Homo sapiens: one gene and its partners. The protein of the gene in region 1 purifies or fractionates together with the protein of each later gene. This does not show direct contact. Each region holds a gene or a part of one and is shown in the gene's direction. Other genes may lie near its edges.

Region 1 (3,686 bases):
AATGAGCTCCATTAGTTGTGTTTGTTTAACCTACATTTTTTTATTCTGTTATTTCTTCTTAATTATATTTTTGGGCAACTTTTTAGAAATTTGCATTTAAATTGGCTCTATTCTTTTTTATAATATAATCTCCATGTCTTAAATACACAGAAATTTGTTTAATATGAGTGTGCTGCTCTGTTTTATTTTTAAAGGTTTATTAATTCCTGGCTTACTTGGAATTTCATATAGTATGTTGTGTGAAGGATGACTCCACGTTAATTTTCCTTTATTCTGGTATCCAGTTGTTCCCAAAATATTTATATAACAGTGAGTCCTTTCCACATTTACGTGTTGTTTCTCGCTTGACATCAATTAAGTTCTCATGATGGGCTGTTTTTTTTTTACTCTAGTCCATTGATTATTCTTTCTGTTATATAGTTTTGACAACATGTTACTTTATGGTTTATTTTTAAATCTAGCAGCATTTTTGCCATTTAATAATTTTATTACCTGATATTTTTGCTGTCTTTTAAGATGAGTGCTTTTTTACAATGTTTCTAAATTTCATAGATCATTCCATAAGATTTTAATGGTTATTGCATTAAATTTGTTGATTACTAAGAATCATGACTTTTGGGGGTTTAGTTAGTCTTCTCAACCAGTACCAAGATACATCACTAACGGCTTTCCACTATGTATCTGAATCAGATATTAAATTGTCTTTACTTAAACCTCATGTGCCCTGACTCTATTGAGGGTAGCTATGTATTTTACAACACTATTTTTTTTGACAATTTTTACTTGTAGATTCAAATGAGATTCTTTGCTGAGCTCATGTATTTACCATACATTTTTAAAAATTTTCTGACATTTTCTAGATCATAATTGTGTGAGTGATGTTGTTTTTAATTCATATTTTTGGACACAGTTCTGTAAGGAGCATGCATTTTGAAAGCTGTTAATTTTTCTTTTTTTTTTTTTTTTTCAGTGTCAGGGATAGGTACTTTTTGTCTGTTAACCACTTTTCTTTTGTACATTGTGTTAGCAAGTTGTTTAAGAACAAATTTAATGCCCTTTTTTGTCAGATTTTAAAAATTTAATATGATTTAACCTGAATGACAGAATTTTAAAATATTCATTTAGACAAGACAGGTCTTCGACTATTTTCTAGATTTCAACTTGTCTTTTTTTCTCTGAGGAATATTTTGGTAGGTGAAAGTGTATAGAATTTAGCTTTTCAATTCTAATGAGTGTCTTATTTATATTATATGCACCCATTAAATACCTTTATGCAAAAATTGGTGAAAAAGTACTTTTTAGAAACAGAGGACTTTACCTTACTCATTTTGAATATTGTAAACAATATGACAGTATTATCTTCAGTCATTCTATGCCTTTATCTTTATTACTGTTATCTTTGCCTTCTTTTTTTCATTTACACAGTGTCTGTAGTTGGCTTTATTAAATTTTAAACTGCCAGATGATAGGACTGTGGCTTTTTGAACTGGACCTTAATAGGCCTGACTTTGACAGGCAGAAAAATAAAGCACTCCTGACAGAGAGAAGTAAAAGGCCATGAGGAGGTGTGGCTGCACGGGTGTGTTTGGGAAGCAGAGAGCAATGTTGTGTGCTGGTGAAGAGAGTTCAGTGAGCAGAGAGAGAATCCCGGACAATGTCAGTTGGGGCTGGGTCCTGGGGCACCTTGGATGCTGGGTGAAGGAGTTTGGGCTTATCTTTGTTGCTGAGAAGCCATTTTGAAGGGAGGACTAACATCAACAAAGGTGAAATGTGACAGATTTCAAGCTGAATGGCAGGCAGAATGGCAGTCCCAATGTCAGAAACATGAAGGTCAAGAGGAGTGGACTGCAGAAGAGCTTGGGGAACTGGGCAGCATGTTTGATTCTACCATATTGATTTTGAGCTGCCAACAGGGCAGTAGGCAGCACTTAGCTCTCACTTGGAAGCATGAGATGGATTGCTAGGAAAAAAGATTTGGTTTTGGAATTCTAAGATCTGAAGGCTCCAGAAAGGAAAGCTAAGGACATAGTCTGAGATAGAAAAGGGTTGAGGAGCCAACTTCAAGGCTCCTTTTTACAGAAAAAAATGAAGAGGCAAAGAAGCAGTGGCAGAAGGCACAGGTCTAGGAAGGATGGGGTGGAGAGGAGGTACAGAAAGGCACCTGCGGATTTCATGGCTGGAGATCTCAGGTGACTTTGGAGAGAGAGGCTTTAAAGGAGTGATGAGAAACAAGGCGGCTGGCTGAGGAATGACGACAGTGAGGAGGTGAAGACAGCAACACCAAACAACTTGACTGTGAGGGCAGCAAGTGAGTAGATGCAAGCGGTGAAGGCTGTTTGTGCTTTTCAGGACATGAACTCTTGTGCTCGCACAAACAGTTCCACACCAGCCTGCCACCTTCTTCAGCGAGACTCATGAGCGACATCCATGATGCCCATTTATTACTTCCCACTCCTATGACTTTTTTATTTCGTCTCTGCTGGGAAATGCCTGCAGGAAACACCCAGTGACGTGACACGTTTTTAGTAACTTTGTGGTGACATCACTGTCTTCTCTGCTTACTGCAGCTTTCTGTTCACCAAATGCCCTTGCTGACCCCTCACACACACAGTCCTTTGACCTTGATTTCACCAGGAAATTCTCAGGCTGGAAAGAACTTTCAGTTGTCTTCACCATCCCCTGACTTCTACCTGTACATCTCCAAAATCTCCTCAAAAAAGATTAAAAAAAAAAAATCTGAAGTGGGAAAGATTTAGTGAAACACACACTTTTCAGCTAATAGCACATCCTGATCTTTAGTTCACAAATCTCTTCTCGTTTTGTTTTCTATTTTATCATTCACCCTCCAACTGCCCCCCGAACCATGGGCAGCCATTTAAAGCATTTGTTGTTATTTTTGCTTCTCTTATAGGTCATCAAAAACCTGAAAGCAAAATTTTTTTAGAAACTCAAATCATTCTTTAACTCCATAGCTTCAAGGACACAGCGACACATCCAGATGCTGATTTAAGATTGAGAGAGAAGGCACTGCCTACCTGGGCTATGAGTTTGCACCTAGTAAAGGGCTCTATCTTGTCACTCATCCCAGTGAGGACCAGGCAGCAGAGGTAGCAGAGGGTTGCCATTTCCTCTTTAAGGCAATTCCCTCCAGACTGGCTCCATGTGTTACTGTAAAATAGTAAGAAGTGCTAGAAGACTGTCATATAACTTTTGTATGTTGAGAGAAAGCACCCTGAAGTCAAGTAGAAATGGTTCTGTTGCTATCTATTATTTTTTCTGTACTTCTAAGACTGTAAAAAAATTACCCATTACTATTTCCCCCCATCATTATCCAATAAATAAACTCTCAAGTCCCTTACTCCAACCATGATGCTCTAAAAGCATTTCTTTTTAGGCAGAATTTTACATTAGTTGCATTCTGGGATCAGGCCCCCTACCGTGTTCCATTGACTCCTCCCAGTGGGTGCCCCCCTCACTCCCAGTCTGACAAGCAGGTGTGTCTGTCTCTTTAGGAACGACTCAATCGCCGGAGCAGGAAGCTCAGAAAGGACATTGCAGAACTTCAGCGGCTCAAGGCTCAGCAGGAGAAGAAACTGCAGGCTCTGCAGGTGGGTTTTTCGGGTTCCTGGGAAGGACTCCCTGGAGTGTTCTCAGGAGCCCTTACTTAACTATTCTGGACATCTGTC
Region 2 (4,405 bases), on another chromosome or scaffold:
TTAACCTCTCTGAACCTCAGTACATCCACAGATTGAGAGAGATAAAACTCACATGCAGGGCTCTTCAGGAGACTGTATGGAGAAGTGCTCTGAGAGCTGCCAGGAACAATACTGTCATCACAGATGCTAAATCGGGGAGCCCGGGCTTTTTTTTGTAGAAGGTGGTTTCCCTAGCTCCTCTATTCACTTACTGTAATCACAGAATCATGGATCTTGAACTGGAAGGGATCTCAAGAGGTCCTCTGGTCCAGTCCTGTGGCATAATTACCTGTATTTTGTAGATAAGATTGTTTTAAGTGTTCCTTATTTTGACATATCTATCATAACATGGTGCAAATAAGCCCTTCTCCTCTTGGGGAGGTGTGACTTCCAGGTGTACATGTACGCAGGTGCTCCAGCCAGCAAAGAGGTGGAAGAGGACAGGAAAGCCATGCCCCCTTAGAAGCAAGTGCAGGTTTGGCAGGATTTCTGGGCAGAAGATCCAAGTTTTGCCTGTGTCCTCCACACCCCACCCTGGCCCTGTAGGCCCAGTGAGTGTGTGAGAATCATATTCTGCTGCCCCTCCCTCCTCTTCTCCCTGAGAAAGTGAGGGATGCACCTGGTTCTCAGGTCTGGCCACAGTGTTTTGAAAAGTGGCTGCCAGGACACATGGTATTCTTCGGTGGTTTTTCTTTCAAAGGAAAATCTCCTTGTGACCCATCTCCTTGAAAAACAGCCACCGCCACCACCGCCGCCGCCACCACCACCACTGCACCACCACCAAAAAACTTGGAAGGAAGAATAGGACACACTCCCCTGAACTTTCCCCTGGCCCTAGAGCCCCATTGAATGTGGGGGCCAGAACCAACCTCTTGAGCTGCAAAAATGTTTTCCATCTTCCCACCAGTCAGGCAAGGAGGCATCAAGGCCTGGACCTGAGAATTGATCAGGGGGATATTTAGGGAAGACAGGGGAAAATGTGAGTATGGAGTGAAAAGCCGCTCAACTCTGGCCTGAGTTGCTAGATTTAAATCCAGGAGATTTTCCTCACCTAAGCGATGGAGATGGTGGGTCCTTTCTAGGGACTGAGGCCAGTTTCTCAATAACCTTTACACGCACCAGGACGCTTTTGAGCCAGAAAGTGAAACTCGGAGAGTCTGTTAATAAAATGCCATGGAGAGGATTGTGCATGATTTACCGTATCCAAAACCAGAGAGAGTTTCTTTGTGGAAGAAAGCGACTTGTGCCTTCCCCAGCATCACACACACACTTTCCTGGCAGGCTCAATGGGTTTCCAAACATTTCGTCACCGTCTCCTCCTGACCTTGGTGTGAAAGGAACTAGCAGCGTGGCCCGCCAGCAAAGCCATCGGGGGCGCCAGCCTGGGCGGGGGATGGGGACGGCGACCGACTCGTGAGTGGAGGTGAGGTCTGCTGGAAATCCCCAGCCCCGGCCGCCGCCTGAGGTTTAAGGACGCCTTCCCCGGCCTTATTTGGTCGCAGGAAGTGGGCGGCGCCGGGCCTGCTGGCTGAGGCCGCCCCGAGACAGTTGTGCTGATGAAGTGGTAGAGCTGGTTCCTGCTCGCCGCGGTGCCGCGCGCGCCGGCCGGCCGCTGGGCGCTCCGCGCTCCCAGCCTCGAGTTGTGCAATCCTTTGTAGCACGCCAGAGTCCTCCTCCTCCGCTGTTGCCTCTCGCCCTCTCTCTTTTTTTTTTTTTCAAGCTGTGAGCTCAACCGATGAGTCAGAGCCGTGCAATCCTGACACTGCATCGCAGGACTGGGGGTGACACGGAGGGAGGCAGAGCGCTCGCGAGGCGGACGGCACGGGTGCGGGGCGCGCCGAGGCTCCTGCATCGCAAGCGGGGGGTGACAGCCCGCGCGTCCCGCCCGGGCCCTGCCAGCAAACTTCTCAGCCTCGGGAGGCGCGGGCTGGCGGAAGCCCCGCGAGCGCCGCGGGGAGGCGACGGCGCCTGTTTGTTTTTAAAATCGGGAGTGCGTGCAGGCGGCTGGAGTCCCGGAGGCGACCGAAGGCGGCGACCCGCGGCGGAAGGGGGACAGCCGAGCCCGGAGCCCGGAGCCCGGGCAAGAGCTGGGTAAGTGGGGCTGCCTGGCCGGCGGCCGAGGCCTGCACGCGGCGGGGCCGGCGAGGGGACCCCAGGCGGCGCGCGAGCTGTGGCTGCTCGCACGGCGGGTTGCAGCTCTGCAGGCGCGGCCCGGAGAGGGGGCCGCGGGGGCCGCTGCGCTCGAACTTCTGCGGCCTGGGCGGCGGTGGAGCGGGCGCGTGTGGCCGTGCGGGGGCCGCCTGCAGCCCGCCGCCCCCTCCCCCGCGGTCCGCGCCCTCGGCCCGCAGCTGCGTGTGCAGCGCAGCCCCGCGGTGTTTGTGCAGCTACGCAGCTTGCGCGCGGCCCCCGCCCACCCGGGCGCGGCCCCGCCAGGAAAGCCCTCCCCACCCGGCGGCCCGCGGCGGCTCGGGAATCCGGCTGCTCCTCCTCCGCTGGAGAGAAACGTGGTGTCCGTGGGGACCGGCTGACGTGACGGAGCCCAGGCCCGGAAGGCGCGGCGAGGGGCTAGCCAGCTGAGGGAACTTGGCGCGGGAGCCCCTTCCCCTGCCAGCGTGCACGGGAAAGTGGGCCTGGACGCGGCGTCCACGCCAGGAGTTTGGGGGACAGAGGTGCAGGGGCGTTGGGGAACTGGGGCAAATGCAGTCAGCAGAGGCCTAGGCTGGAGCGCTTCGCGCGGGCGGGCGCACCTCAGACCTGTCATCCTCCCGCGCGCCCCCGCACGCCCGCGCCGCCGCAGCCCTCCCAGCCCGCGCGGTGCCTCGCGGGGAGCTGTGTTCCCTGGTGCCTGGCGGCAGCGCCGAAACCCGGGATTCGGCCGGGCCCTGCATATGGCCGGCTTGGTGGAGCTGGTCACGTCGCCTCCCAAGTCGCACATGCAGGACCATGTGTGTCAGGTTGCCCCCAAGGCCTCTGGGTAAAGGTCTAGGGGAGGAAGGGGAACTTCGTGTGCCCTGGGGCCTTCAGGCTTCAGCCCCAAGGCGGGCCGACATGGAGGAGGTACCTGCCACAGAAAGTGGAGGCCGGGTGTCCGTCCCAGCCCAGCCTCCAGCGAGAGCTGGTGAGAAGATGAAAGGGGAAGTTATATGCCCCATTTAAAACTTTGTTGGTCACAACTACGGTGGCTGCTTCCTGTTTCCACCATCCCACGTGGGACCTGTGTGCCAGCCTGTGGAGCCTCGCGCGGGGGGCGGTGGGATGGGGGAAGAGAGGCTGGCCACGGAGGCCCCGGTGGCCCGCGTATGCAGGGGATCCCTGTTGGCAGCTGCGGCTGGGGGAGGGAGGGGATGTCTGGCTTGCTCCAGCAGGGGGAGCCTGGCCAGGTGATCTGGGATCTTCTTGTTCCTGTAGCTTCAGGGTTGAGACTGAAGGCCTAGTGAAGGTGGACCGAGAAGCCAGTCCTCCCTAGGGGGCCTCAGCTGAGGGGAGAAACCACCTGTCTTGCTCTAGAGCCTCCCACCAAAGGTGTGGCACACGCCCCTTTTGGATCAGAGAAATGCACCCTTTCCTTGGGTGTTAAGTGGCTTCAGAACCCAGGGAAAAGGAGAAGCCTTCCCGGGTTGAGAATTCGTAGGTCTTCCTTTTCCAACTGCTCTGGACAGTGAATAATAGGAGCGTAAACATTCAATTACTGTGATAAACCATCTCGTTGCATGGCCCTGGTCCAGTCTCCACTCTAATTGGATTGGCCTCTGGCTGGTTACTCTGGTCCGTGTAGCTCCCGGGGGGACAAGGGGGTGAAGAACCTGGAGGATGCCCCCAGGTCATACAGCTTGCCAGCTTGCTCTGGAACAGCCTAGCCACTGCCAGTGTGGCCTCTCCAAGTGCCAGCAGAACCCCCACTCCCGTGACTCTGTCAGCTCCTCACCCCGCCCCAGGAAAGAGCGCCCTGGAGTGCCCATGGGGATGAGAATTTAATTTTTACATGTGGGATTTTAAAATAGCCCCAGTGTTTGACCCTGTGTGCTGCTGCTTTCAATAAGTGGAACACAAGAAAAGACAACATGCAGTTGTGGATTCAGCTGAGGGCCTCCTGTGTCTAGAGTCCCCAGAGAAAGGCTGCCCAGGGGTGCCAAGACCTCTGACAGAAGAGGGGAAGGGGAATGGGCCCAGTCCAGGAATCTTCAGGTTGAGAGCCCCTCTCTTGCATTTGGGTCTCCCAGAAGAAAACTTTGCTCATGCTGGGGTGGGGACAGCCACAAAGTGGCTGGGGGTTTCCAGCTTATCCTTCTAATCCTGTTTCAAATGCCACTTCTGAAGGCTGTAGCCATCTTCTGAACACTCATTTCCACCTTATGTAGTTATTTGTGTACATACTGCAGTGTGGTGGTCAAAAACAAAGACTCTGAGTTAGAGTTCCTATACAGTA
Region 3 (3,686 bases), on another chromosome or scaffold:
CTCATTTGGCATCCTAACCATTTGCCTCTTTTCTTTCTCCACACTACCCTCATGCCCTATATTCACACAACCTGTGGCTCTGGACCAGGTGGAGAGATGGAACCGCCATGATCAGAAGCTGCTGGAGGCAGTGCACAGGGGGGATGTGGGACGCGTGGCTGCCCTGGCCTCCAGGAAATCTGCCCGACCCACCAAGCTTGACTCGAATGGCCAGTCCCCGTAAGTCAGTCCTCCTGCCCCTGCCCCTTACATGTGGCTCCCTTTTGAAGCCCCCAAATCCAATATAACATAGGACCAGGGAATGCCTACAACTTCAGAGCTCTTTTCATTGTCTTAATTAGCAAGTATATCAATAGTTTTTTGCTACATATAAGTTCTACACAAAGTGAGGAAAGAAAATATTGTTCCTGAGCTCCATCCATTGCACAACCCAGATTGACACCACTGACTTGTAAAGTACATAAAGCCCATTAAACAAACAGAAAATGAATATATACACTAAGTAGAGTGTTTCTTCATTGCACAAGTAGGAGGGTGTGTATGCATGGGAAATTTGAAATGAAGTGGTAGCATGGGAGTCACATGGCTAGAGGGAGTAGTGATTAAGTCAAAGGAAATGTTATCCCTTGTCTCTACCCAAAGCCTTCGAATGTCCAGCCTTCACTCTGCTCTGGCTGACTCTTTCTGTGACACTTCCACTTCCGCTAAGGTTCTGTGCTCAGAGAGGCAGGTAATTATGTGTTCCCTAGACACCCCTGCAATAGTCTGAGATTCCTTGAGACCTGTAGCTCTTATTTCTTCCTTGCTTTTAGCATCCTTTGTGATTGGAGGCCATATAGACTTCTCTTTCTCAGAAATTCAAGCTAGGGGAGCTTCTTTTCCTGCTTTTAGGATTGGCTTTGGGGTAGGGAGCATAGCAAGAAGGGCTTATCAAGATTCTCCCATTCCTCATCCCTGGTCCCTTTATCCTTTGGCCTCTCGGCCTTGATTCTGGCAGGTTTCATCTGGCAGCCTCCAAAGGCCTGACAGAATGTCTGACTATCCTGCTTGCAAATGGGGCTGACATCAACAGCAAGAATGAGGATGGTGAGTGAGCCGGAGCACTGGGCCACGCTGCTTGCTTGCCCCTGGTACAGCAGCAGTCGGGGGCGGTGCTGGGCCCTGCTGGACATTCCTACTGTGGCCCCTTGCTTCTCTCCTTAGTAAGTTCTGGCCAGCATCCTTCCAGGAGTTCCCCTCCCCGTAAGCTGGGCACACCTCACCCCCACTCCCACCTTCATCACAGGTACCAGGCACTTGGGGAACAGGAATTTCTGGCCCCGTGTGGCTGAAAGCTTCTCTCCCTAATCTCCTGATTATCTGTGCGTCTCTTGCCTTCCCTCCCTGTGAGTCATCAGCATGCATGGGGCCACCTACCCTCCTTCTCCCCTTCTTTCTGTTCCAGGAAGCACTGCCCTACACTTGGCCACCATCTCCTGCCAGCCACAGTGTGTTAAGGTTCTGCTTCAGGTAAGAGCAGTCCCTTGATACCACTCTTATGAAGGGAAGAAGTGGTCCCAGAGTTTTCTAACTTCATTTCATACTTAAAAGGAATAGTTGGCCAAATGTACTCGCCTCATCCCCAATAGGAGGGCTGATAATCATTTGTTTGCCAACATTTATTTAACTACTATGTGCAGGCACCATGTTTGATAGTGCCTTTGAGGGCAGGTTATAAAGCAGAGTTGCCAGGCACTATCGATTTTGTCATTAGCAGAGCCACTGCAGAGACTTCCTGCTATGATGAGGGGCAAGAGGAAGGAGGACAGAGATGTTCAAATTAAACCAAAGCCCTACTGTCTGTTTCTGAAGAGTTTATAGTCTAGTAGTATAAAGAGAAATATACATGTAAAATGACATGTGGATCATTTATAAATGAGTCTCCAAAAGCACAAAAGGCAGTTACTGGCCGGGTGCGGTGGCTCATGCCTGTAATCCCAGACTTTGGGAGATGGAGGTGGGCAGATCACAAGATCAGGAGATCGAGACCATCCTGGCTAACACAGTGAAACCCCATCTCTAATAAAAATACAAAAGATTAGCTGGGTGTGGTGGCACGTGCCTGTAGTCCCAGTTACTCGGGAGGCTGAGGCAGGAGAATCGCTTCAACCCAGGAGGCGGAGGTTGCAGTGATCCAAGATCGCACCACTGCACTCCAGTCTGGGCAACAGAGAGAGACTCTGTCTCAAAAAAAAAAAAAAAAATCAGTTATCTTAACCGGCCATCAGGCAAATGGATGTTCTACTTTCGTTCTTCCTAATCCTTTCCAAATTTCACAATTATGTTTCTAAAGTACCAGCCACGGGGACATTGGGTGTCATTTTCCCTAACACGTTTATTACCATCTGATTTTTCTTAGCCCCTTGGTTTAGAAACCAGGGCTGATATTCAAGGCTGCCTATCATCAGCAATGGATGAACTGGGCTTGCCTAGTAGATAGCCTTCTCCAAAGTGGACCTCCTGCCCCTCCTCATATTACCATGGAAATTGGTGACCCAATGGGGGTATGGGATGAGGATGTTAACACCAAGCTCCATGCTGCTTCCCTTTGTGGCCATTTGCAGCATGGTGCTAATGAAGATGCTGTGGATGCAGAAAACCGTAGTCCATTGCACTGGGCAGGTGTGTGCAGGGGACTCATGGGAACAGGGCTGCAGAGACTACAGGGTGGGAAAGGGGAGGCGTGAGGAGGGAAGGGCAGCCAGGGCCAACCAATGAAATGGTCGGAGGGGATGTTGGGTCATAGTCTGAGTAGGCTTTCTTCATGCTTCCCCTTAACCCAAACATCTTCTCCCCAGCCTCCTCTGGCTGTGCCTCAAGTGTGCTCCTGCTGTGTGACCACGAAGCCTTCCTGGACGTGTTGGATAATGTGAGTGTCAGATGGGCAAGTGGGCAGTGTCCTACACAGAAGGGCTGCTGCTGTCTCTCAGCTTGACTGGCCAACTTCCACGACCTAGGGCTGTGTTAGCACCACCCTTCTCTTCCTTCTCCTCCTGCTTCTCCTCTTCTTCCTCACAGAGAGGTTAAGCCTTATCTTCTGGAGAGCTTCTAACCCTCCAAAAGGGAGTGTTCAGACCCAAGATCTGGGCTTTTATTTTTTTTGGACAGGTGTGAGGGGAGGGGAGCCGGTAGGATTGTCAAGCCTCTGCAGTCCCTGGCTGCTCATGAACCTCTTCCTACAATCTGTGCAGGATGGACGTACACCCCTGATGATCGCATCGCTGGGTGGGCACGCAGCTATCTGCTCACAGCTGCTGCAGCGAGGCGCCCGAGTTAATGTTACAGACAAGAATGACAAGTGAGCCCCCCTCGTCTATGCACCCCAATTCCCATGCCTGACCAATTTAGAAAGAAGCCAGTGGGCAACGTGTGTGTGTGTGTGTTTGTGTGTGTTGGGGAAGAAGTCAGGTTGGTCTTTGTGTTCTTGGGAACCTCATTCCTTCCCAGTGGAGGTTCTGAAGAGCTCTGCCTGCTGCCACCACCATCTTCATAGATAGATGACCCCAGAAGTAGAATCGACACTTCTGGACCCGTTGGCTGAATTTACTGGTTGTCAAATTATCTTTTATGCAAGAGGATCCTTTTTTCCAATAAAAAATGTATGTAGAATCCCTGTGATCCCAGCACTTTGGGAGGCCAAGGCGGGT
Region 4 (3,646 bases), on another chromosome or scaffold:
CTGTAGCATCCTGGCACACACTGTTCTGTCCTGCAGGGTTAGGCAGGGGGATTCTTTGTTTTGAAGGATGAACCAAGATAACACATACAGTAACTCAGATGCCCTGTGTGTGTGCACGCATTAGCATGTGCATGCACGTGGCTGGAGGCAGCCACACAGACTGAAAGAATGTGAGCTTTGGAGTGATTCATTCACTTGGGTATTCATTCCACAAATCTTGCTCAGCTCCTAGCATGTGACCACCCATTCTGGACATGGGGATACAGGGGTGAACAGAAGAGACAAGATCTCTGCTCCATAGGAACTTGTGTTCTGGAGGGAAACAAACAATAAACAAGTAAACTAGGCCGAGACACGGGCTTCTAGGCCACTCCACCATGGAGCAACTGTATCACACTTGACCTCACTGAACCTGCCTCTGTCAGAGGAGGTGAGAACTGTCTTGAAGGGATGTCTGAAGACTTCAAGGGCCTCTCAGGGTTCTGGCACGTAGACACCGTGCTGCTGAGGGCAGGAGCTCTGTGGGGTTGAGACTCTTGTTTGCTAGGCATGAAGAGACAGGGAGAGAAGTGGGATGGAAAGAAGGCATTCAGAACTCACAGGCAGCCCCAGCGAGGAGAAGTCAAAGCTCCGTGCCCCTTCCAGCACAAAAGCAAGTCCATTGAACCGGTGGCTTTTTCTGTCATCTAGCTCCTAAAAACAAAAACAAAGGTAAATTCCTGGAGTTCAACCTAAGTGTTTTGGGTCAAAGGTGGGGTCAAAGGTGGGCTGTACAAGTGTTCATGAATTGGGAGGCCGGAGAAAAGACACTGAGGGTTTGCAGAGAGGGTCTTCTGTTCTGGAGTCTAGTTCTATTCAGTCTCTCTGAGAGGTAGGGTCTTTATCGTGTACTTGTGCAGTTTACAAAAATGTGACAAAGTTTCATAATGTAGGTTCACTCAGCCATTTAACAAATGTTAATGAAATGGGGAGCTGAAATGTAAAAGTGATAAAACTTCTGTGCCTTCAAGAATTTCCCAGTCGGTAAGGGAGACAGACATACAAATTACTATCATACAGGCCGGGCACGGTGGCCACGCCTGTAATCCCAGCCCTTTGGGAGGCCAAAGTGAGTGGATCACCTGAGGTCAGGAGTTCGAGACCAGCCTGACCAACATGGTGAAACACCATCTCTAATAAATACAAAAAATTAGCCAGGCGTGGTGCCATGCACCTGTAATCCCAGTTACTTGGGAGGATGAGGCAGGAGAACCGCTTGAACCCAAGAGGAGGAGGTTGCAGTGAGCCGAGATTGCACCACTGCACTCTAGCCTGGGCAACAAGAGTAAAACTCCATCTCAAAAAAGAAATAAATAAAATAAAATTACTTATCATACAGCATGAAGAGGCAGATCTCAGGCATCTTGGGAGTATGGAGGAAGGAGGAATCCTTGGTCATACTCCCAAGTATTGGCCAAGAGAGTTAAAGAAAATGTCAGCAAGAAGATGGCATTGGAGGTGATGTTTACATTGGGTTTTGAATGACCCCTGTGGGTAGTAGGAAAGATTCACGCTATCCGATAGTGGGCAGGATTTTATTCTCAGTACTTCTCTTGCTTTAATTCTCACAGTCAGTAGACAAGTAGACACAGTTGACCTTCGCATCTTCAATAGCCTTTCTTCCTTGTCACAGAACATGCAGGAAGAGCACATTGTGTACAGTTGCATAATATAGTTGGTCTAAACGTTAGTTAATTGGCTTTGACATTATTTCTGAGAGTCCTACAATCCAAATTATTAAAAAGGCACAGTAACGTTAAGAAAAGCCTGTCAGGAATCTGTTTTATGATACCCCAATGTAAGTGAGAAGCTCCGAATTTTGATAATATGATCAGTGTGGACTTGATTCTTTAAAAAAATATTGAAAATAATACATATATTTAGAAGACAAGACCAGGGAGAAAGAGAATACGCAAACTGAAAGAACCTATGAAACCGTTTTTTAAAAGGCAAGGTTGGTACTGAGCTTCCTAGAGGCTGAAGCAAAAATAGTTTAAAACCCCACTGTTGGTTATCTTACTCGTATCAGTGGGCTTGAGGGACATACTCTTCTCTCAATGGAGTACAAAAAAGGTTTTCTTGTTCCAAAAAAATTTTTTTCATGTGTATTTATATTCAAGAAAGATACAGCATTAAAGAATGTGGATCACAGTGAAAGTACAAATGAAACAGTAAATGTGGTTGTTAAGAGCACAGACTTTGATGTCAAGATTGACCCAAATTTACAATCTGGCTCTACAACTGGTTACAATGTTAAGCAAAGTTGCTACACCTCAGTTTCCTTTTCTGTCAATTGGGAGGTAAAAGTGCCAGTCACGGGGTTGAATCAGAAGGCCTTGGTGAAGAGATGCTGGTACAGTGTTGAATAGTTTCTGGCACCCAGTATCTGGAAGCTGTAGTGATGATTGCAGTGGGGTTCTTGTGTCTTCTTATGTTAAGAGGAGCCCCGTCTGTCATCCCAATCTGTGACCTACCTCAGAGGTGCTCGTGACCCACACACGCTTTTAAACCCAGGCCAGGGCATGAATGATGATGAAGGCAGCCCAGTGGAGAGCGAGGGATCCAAGGGGGAGGCGAACAAAGCAAACACCCCCTCACGCTGTGCCTGTCTTATTTCTTGAAGGTGAATGATTCCAATTGTGACCAAGAACTTCTTTCCCTGCTCCTGGATGCCAAGCTGCTGGTGAAGTGTGTCTCCACTCCCTTCTATCCACGTATTGTTGACCACCTCTTGGCTAGCCTCCAGCAAGGGCGCTGGGATGCAGAGGAGCTGGGCAGACACCTGCGGGAGGCCGGCCATGAAGCCGAAGCCGGGTCTCTCCTTCTGGCCGTGAGGGGGACTCACCAGGCCTTCAGAACCTTCAGTACAGCCCTCCGCGCAGCACAGCACTGGGTGTGAGGGCCACCTGTGGCCCTGCTCCTTAGCAGAAAAAGCATCTGGAGTTGAATGCTGTTCCCAGAAGCAACATGTGTATCTGCCGATTGTTCTCCATGGTTCCAACAAATTGCAAATAAAACTGTATGGAAACGATGAGCAAGCTGCCGCTTTTTTAACCTTTTTTTTCTTTCTTGTACTGAGTGGTGAACATATTTTCTTATTGATTAAGAGACTCTTCCTTCCCACCCTCCTTTTTTATTTCAACCTGCCTTTTCTGGATAGAATTCAGTTTATAATGTGTCCACAACTGTAGTTCAGCAAGTTGGATGTGCTGGTGGATGGGGTGGCATTAGGAAGGGAGGGAGTGTGCAGAATGCCTGGCGGTCAAGGCAGGTGTCATGGGTGGAGGGAGGGTGGACCTGGACTCAAGTTTCAGATTAGTTAAATGACCTCGGGCAAATTCTTCCACCTCTTTGAACCTATGTCTATTTTGTAGAAAAATAAGGGTGGTATTATTTGTCTCGTAAAGTTGATAAGTATTATGTGGGGTTGTGTGTGTGAGGCTCTATCAGATACACAGCCGGAGCTGAAGAAATATTAACTCTCTGTCCCACTCACTAGTGTCACAGTATATGAATTATGACCTTCAGGGCATAGCCAGATGATCAGGACCAATACATGATTGCTGTCTGATTAGAGGGCTTCAAAATTTATCAGCATCGACATGTT

The links.
Region 2: the proteins of TRIM40 (region 1) and MIDEAS purify together in Homo sapiens (affinity purification with mass spectrometry, with the first as the bait; one large-scale study listed by BioGRID). This does not show direct contact.
Region 3: the proteins of TRIM40 (region 1) and ANKRD35 purify together in Homo sapiens (affinity purification with mass spectrometry, with the first as the bait; one large-scale study listed by BioGRID). This does not show direct contact.
Region 4: the proteins of TRIM40 (region 1) and NBAS purify together in Homo sapiens (affinity purification with mass spectrometry, with the first as the bait; one large-scale study listed by BioGRID). This does not show direct contact.

Annotation. Positions count from the first base shown.
Region 1 is NC_000006.12:30,142,482-30,146,167, forward strand, and holds part of TRIM40 (E3 ubiquitin ligase TRIM40), read left to right. Parts: intron 1-3,512; coding exon 3,513-3,608; intron 3,609-3,686. UniProt on the Homo sapiens protein: E3 ubiquitin-protein ligase that plays a role in the limitation of the innate immune response. Mediates inhibition of the RLR signaling pathway by ubiquitinating RIGI and IFIH1 receptors, leading to their proteasomal degradation.
Region 2 is NC_000014.9:73,757,428-73,761,832, reverse strand, and holds the start of MIDEAS (mitotic deacetylase-associated SANT domain protein), read left to right. Parts: upstream 1-1,529; 5' UTR 1,530-2,070; intron 2,071-3,013; exon of another isoform or gene 3,014-3,086; intron 3,087-4,405.
Region 3 is NC_000001.11:145,875,791-145,879,476, reverse strand, and holds part of ANKRD35 (ankyrin repeat domain-containing protein 35), read left to right. Parts: intron 1-88; coding exon 89-219; intron 220-997; coding exon 998-1,086; intron 1,087-1,444; coding exon 1,445-1,509; intron 1,510-2,603; coding exon 2,604-2,661; intron 2,662-2,837; coding exon 2,838-2,908; intron 2,909-3,230; coding exon 3,231-3,337; intron 3,338-3,686.
Region 4 is NC_000002.12:15,166,340-15,169,985, reverse strand, and holds the end of NBAS (NBAS subunit of NRZ tethering complex), read left to right. Parts: intron 1-2,662; coding exon 2,663-2,938; 3' UTR 2,939-3,070; downstream 3,071-3,646. UniProt on the Homo sapiens protein: Involved in Golgi-to-endoplasmic reticulum (ER) retrograde transport; the function is proposed to depend on its association in the NRZ complex which is believed to play a role in SNARE assembly at the ER. Required for normal embryonic development.